2 separate regions of the Homo sapiens genome follow, and region 1 is linked to region 2. The links come from fine-mapping of genetic effects on gene expression. A gene starts in region 2. The other region holds a variant in brackets. All regions are shown on one strand. Distances are from middle to middle.

Region 1 (2,893 bases), 88 kb after region 2:
AGAAGCTGGTGCGCTCCCCGAGCGGCCTGCGCATGGTGCCCGAACACCGCGCCTTCGGAAGCCCGTTCGGCCTGGAGGAGCCGCAGTGGGTCCCGGACAAGGAGGTGGGTGGCCGTCGCCCCGGCCAGCGCCTCCGACCCGCCCCGCCGCCCCGGCCCGGCCCCGCGGGCTTCCAGGCTCCCGCGACGACCCCTCCGCCTCCGGGCGGCCCCTTCCCCAGCCGGCCCCCGCCCCCGCTCTCTCCCAGGTTGGCCGCGTCCCCGGGCCGCCGCCTCAGGCTCCTACGCCCGCGGGGAGGGCGGGAGGCGCGCGGTGTCCCGGTGCGGGGGTCCCGGGAGGGCAGGAGGCACCTGTCCAGGGCGGGCGCCGGGAGGCGGGGTGCGGGGCGCGGGCTGGTCCCGGGGGTGGGTGCGGCCCTGCCCGAGGCCGGTTCGTGCTGGGCTAGCGCGTGTGGACTGCGTCCCGAGAGCTGGGGCTCGCTCCCGAGAAAGTGGAAGGCGGAGCGCCTTCCTCGCAGGCTCGGTGGGGAGGGCGCGTGCTGTCCGCGGAAGCGCTGGAGCTGGCGGCCCCGCAGGGGTCCCTCCCGGGAACCGGGGGAGGCGTCGGTGCCGCGGGCGGGTGGCCGGTTCCGAAGCCACCTCCTGCTCGGAAGGAGGGCCAGGACCCAGTCTGCGGGCCAGGCTGCCCCCCGTTTCCCTTCGTCTATACCACCCTCCACCTCGGAAGCGAGGTCGCAGTCGCCCACTGGACAGTTTGAAGGAGACCGCAGATTTGCACCCGTTTCCCATGGGCCCAGACACGGCAGGAGTTGCCCAGGCCACTCCTGCAGACATTGGGGCGTGGGCGTGGGGTCCCTGAGCCAGGCCATCCGCTGGGCCTCCCGTGGGGTTCCCTGTGACCTGATCGGAGGTGCCTTTGCCTCACACCAGCCCCTTGGCCAACTGGGAAGGCCCCGAGTGCATTTAATCCCACTGGCTGTGCGCTAACAGGTGTGTCCAGTTTCTGTTCTGTGGATTTTACCACGATAAAAAAAAAATTGGGGGAGAAAAAGAATTTTTGTAATATGACTTTCATACTTAACACGTGTTACAGATTCGTTTAATTCCCTCAGTGATAGAACTAAGCAGACGTTGGAACTAGGTTCAAGAAGTCAAAGTAGCACTAATTGACTGGGTTCATTGAAGCTTGGTTGGAGGCCTGGTGGGGGGTGAGCGGCCACAGAGCCTCGGGGACAGGACGGAATTCGAGTGACTCTGGGGAAGTGTCTCTGGCATCTACAGTGTACGGAGCCATCACCGGTCACTGAGCGTGTCCTGGAGAGTTGAGACCAGTGCTGCCCACCTCTCCCCAGTATCGCCACCATGAGGAGTCTTTTTAGACACTTTCCGCCAATCATCCTCCTTCATCTTTTTTAAAATTTACTTTTAAGTTGACACGTGAAAATTGTATTTATGGTGTAACGAACTCTTAATAGCACAGAAATACTCTAC[G/A]TCTGTATGAACCGTAAGGAGCACGTGAGAAAGTGTGGCCAAGATGAGGCAGAGGTTTCCACCAAAGCACAATTTCTTTCTCCCTGCTGTACACATGCACTGATCTTACGGTTCTGTTTTATAGTGAACCACTGTGTTCCCCTCCTTCATTCTCTCTTCCAGAGCCCTTCTGGTATCAGCTGAATTGTTTAGCATTTTTCCCTGCCTTTCTTTGTGGCCTCTGCTGAGGCACTGTGTGGCAGTCCCGCGGTGACTTCCGACTGAGTGGAGTTGAAACACTTGAGTCAAGGTGGCACCCCTCGTGGAAGAGAAGATTCATTCCCACGCTGGCGTGGTGGCAGGATACCCCTCCAGAGCCCCCCACCATGTTTGGATGATTAACTGGGATCTGAGCAGCTGAGGGAGGTCCTAGCATTGGGTGGGCTTGGGGGACAGAGAAACCATTCTAATAAGATGGACTTTGTCTCTGAGTTTTGCGTTGTGAATTGTATTGGAGCATGGTCTTACAGGCCAGAAACGACCAAAGACAGTGTTCTGGAGGAACTTAGAACGGGGCAGTAAGGGCTGGAAGATTTGGAATAAAGTCCAGCTTTAGGTGCAATAGCTCGAGGGGACATGTACGGTAACAGTCGCCTGGCATGTGGTGATGCTGAAGGGGACACTGAGCTACACTGTGCTGGCTGCGTGCTTGGGGCCGCTAAGGTGATTGTCGGGAGGTGACTCAAATGTGCAGATAACCAGTTGTGGGAAATAGGTTTATTTGAGGTGGTTTGGAATGGGGAGAGGAGAATTTGGTAGAACTTGGCAGGTGGGTAACATTGTCCTTGGCTTGGTGGCCGTGTGCCGATCGGCATCATCGTCATATCTGTAAACGTGTTGGTCCATTTTCATTCCAGCTCTGTTCTTAGCCAGGGGAGTCTGAATCCAGCCCAGTGCCCGTCTCCCGAATACCAGCTGCCTGACCGGGCTGGTTTATCAGTTTGGGCCCATGAGGGTTATCCCTTTAAAATGCTGCAAAACCCCCTGGGGAGCATGTGCACACATGCACCTTTCTCCGAGAGGTGGCCTGCAGCTCTCAGATTCTCAAGGCTCTGACGCAGAACCAGTTGAGAATCGTTTCTCCAGTCTGTGCCTCCTCAGGAACCTGTGGGGCAGGGGAGGCAGAGGCGGCGTGTAAAGCTTCGTGCGACACCACTTTGGATAGAGGTGCTTTGGGGGTGTGAAGGAAGCTTCAGATGATCTCTGGGGCTTGTCTGACTCTGCCATCAAATATCCGACACTGACGCAAGGCAGTGGGCTTGGGGGTGGGCGGTCCGGGCGTGCAGCCATCTGGGCTTGTCACAAGCAGCTGAGATCCTGAGTTTTATCCTTAAAATCCTTGCCGCTGTGCACCCCTCCCACCT
Region 2 (2,893 bases):
TGCACACCTGTAGTCCCTAGCTACTTGGGAGGCTGAGGCAAGAGGATCTCTTGAGCCCAGGAGTTCGAGGTTACGGTGAGCTGATTGCCACTGCCCTCCAGTCAGGGTGACAAAGATACCCTAACTCAAAGAAATATTGAGGAAGTAGAATCTTTTCCACCTGTTGTAGTAGGGCGTAAGGGAGCGGTGCAGGCATCCCAGGTTTCTGGCTAGGGTTGTGGGTGAGCAGAGGGGACAGTTACTGGGCGCAGCGGCACAGAAAGAATGAGCAGTCGATGCTTGGCGGTGCCCAGCCCAGTGGCTGAACTTAGTGACATCCAAGCTGCAGTCTGGCTGAAATCACTAACCTGAAAGTGGTATGGAGAAAGTTTGTTTGACCCTGACTCAGTGCCTCTCCCCGGGCCAACCCTACCGTGTTACCTAGGAGCTCCCCCTTTGTCTTTATAAATGAGATAAAAGTAACCAGACCTCCCTGGAAAAACCGAGGAGCACTTGCTTCTCTGGTGACTGCGGGGCCTAACTGCAGGGTTCACAAAGGGCTGCTGGTGCTGGGTGATAACATCGGAAAGGAACAGCAGTTCACAAGATGGGGCTGGGGGACTGGCCCAGGAACCCCTCCAGGTTAAATGATGCCTCCGGGCCCCGCACTTGGGACGTCTGCAGGCACTGGGAGGGTTTTTCCCAAGCCGCTGGCAGCAGCGAGCGGAGCCTCGCCCATTGAATCAGCATGCCCTCCCGGCTGGCTGCTGAGTCAGGCCTGCGGAGCCGGCGAAGCCGCAGGACTTGACCCAGGCGCGCTCCGCTGCCCTTCAGGCCGGGCTGGAGGTCGAGGCCCTGCAGCCAGGGAGATGCGCCGGTGGCTGCGTGGGGACAGAGGGGGGTTGTCTCCCACCCTCACAGTCTACACCCCGGCCCTTCCCCTTTGCCCGTCTGAGGCGCAGTTTGTGTCGAGGGGGAGCGCCTGGAAAGTTTCCTCGTACAGATACGAGGGTCCAAAAGCCCCGAGGAGAGGGAATAATGAGAAGGGGAGGGCGCAGGGTTAGAGGTCAGGGTCTCGACCAAAGGCTGTCGGTTTTCCTGGAGGAGGGAGAAAGGCCTGGCCGGGATCATCTGATTCCGGGGCCTCCCGAAGGCCTCCTAGCTGGGTTTTGGGGGGACCGAAACGAGCGCATGAAGCTCGCGGGCCTGGGAGTGGGGTGGGGCGGGAGCCCAGTGGTGGCGGCTGCGGCCGGGCCTGCACCGTCCCCGGCCGCATTCTGGTAGGGCCCACAGTCCGGCTGGAAGGGAAGCTGCCGAAGCGCTCGGTCATCGCGGCTGCGGAGTCGGAGAGGCCAGGGCCTGGCCGCCCACCCCGCGAGCCGCGCCCTGCCCCGAGCGCCCCACCCCCGTCCGCGTTACAACCGGGAGGCCCGCTGGGTCCTGCACCGTCACCCTCCTCCCTGTGACCGCCCACCTGATACCCAAACAACTTTCTCGCCCCTCCAGTCCCCAGCTCGCCGAGCGCTTGCGGGGAGCCACCCAGCCTCAGTTTCCCCAGCCCCGGGCGGGGCGAGGGGCGATGACGTCATGCCGGCGCGCGGCATTGTGGGGCGGGGCGAGGCGGGGCGCCGGGGGGAGCAACACTGAGACGCCATTTTCGGCGGCGGGAGCGGCGCAGGCGGCCGAGCGGGACTGGCTGGGTCGGCTGGGCTGCTGGTGCGAGGAGCCGCGGGGCTGTGCTCGGCGGCCAAGGGGACAGCGCGTGGGTGGCCGAGGATGCTGCGGGGCGGTAGCTCCGGCGCCCCTAGCTGGTGACTGCTGCGCCGTGCCTCACACAGCCGAGGCGGGCTCGGCGCACAGTCGCTGCTCCGCGCGCGCGCCCGGCGGCGCTCCAGGTGCTGACAGCGCGAGAGAGCGCGGCCCTCAGGAGCAAGGCGGTGAGTCCCCGGCGTGCGCCCCGGACCGCGGCCCCCTCCTCATCCTCCGCCCCGTCCCTGTCCCGCTCCTCTTCGGACCCGCCCCGGCCGTAACTCTGTCCCCATCCAGGCCTCCTTCCCGGTTTGGGTCCCGGCCCCTCTCCGTTCCCACCCCGGTACCCGCCCCAGTTCACCGCCCCGGCCGGTCCGCGACCCCTTCCAGGTTCAGGTCGGGTTCTTGTCCCCGGCCCTTTTGCCAGCCCCGGCTCCCGGCGCCGCGCGTCCTCCCCATCCGCGTCCCACTGCAGGTTCCGGTCCCCGGCCCTGCCCAGGGCCCCGCCCTGGCCCCGCATCCCCGGCTTGGCCCTGCTGCGGGCGGCGGCGGCCGTTCCCGGGGACAGCTGTGGACCCCGGGAACCCGCGACAGGGGAGGTGGCTGACCCCGGGATCGCGGCGGGCGGGGAGGCCGGAGGCCCGGCGGGGCTGGCTTTGTCCGATTCCTCCTCTTCCTTCCACCCCCGCCTCTCCCGGCACCGCCCTGAGCGGACGCGCCTGTCATTCTCGCGGGCGGCGGGGGGCCGGGTCCCTCCCGAGAGCTGGCTCCGCTTTGCCTCCTTGGCGACCCCTTATTTTCAGTAACCAGATGCGAAACGTTTCAGGCGACCCTGTTCACCTAGGCTGGCGTTGCTCCAACTAAACTTGAAGCAGCCTCCGTCCTGGAATGCTTTTTCCATGTAAAATTGGGTGTACCCTTTTCCTTAAGAAAATTAAAATAAAGCGTAAAAGTAGTGAAATTAATGCGTGATGGAGTGGATGGTTTTATAACTTAACATTTGTAGGTCATTTCTAGGTATATTTGTATTAGAATTGTTGCTGCCTGTTACTGTTTTATTATTTAAATGAATTAAGAATTTACATATTAAGCGTTTGAAAAGGAATACTTACAAAAATGATGTTTTTTAAAAATGTGAGAACAAAAAATTTGAGATATACTATTT

What was found.
Region 1: its variant is fine-mapped to the expression of KLC1 in lung (TOPMed, PIP above 0.99).

What each region holds. Positions count from the first base shown.
Region 1 is chr14:103,715,876-103,718,768 of GRCh38, forward strand. It overlaps ZFYVE21 (zinc finger FYVE-type containing 21), which reads left to right. Exons shown (of 7, transcript NM_024071.4): 1 at 1-104. Among named protein-coding and RNA genes, the nearest start is that of ZFYVE21, 1.5 kb to the left of the region's middle. RefSeq lists silencers at 1-168, 359-438, 539-608, 669-748 and an enhancer at 2,299-2,809. The variant G/A (reference allele first, on the strand shown) is at 1,491.
Region 2 is chr14:103,627,579-103,630,471 of GRCh38, forward strand. It overlaps KLC1 (kinesin light chain 1), which reads left to right and starts at 1,633. Exons shown (of 17, transcript NM_001394837.1): 1 at 1,633-1,916. LOC105370688 (a long non-coding RNA gene) reads right to left here and starts at 1,565. Exons shown (of 3, transcript XR_944248.2): 1 at 1,454-1,565; 2 at 161-347. RefSeq lists an enhancer at 671-760 and silencers at 1,201-1,400, 1,491-1,850, 1,901-2,020, 2,111-2,160, 2,201-2,380.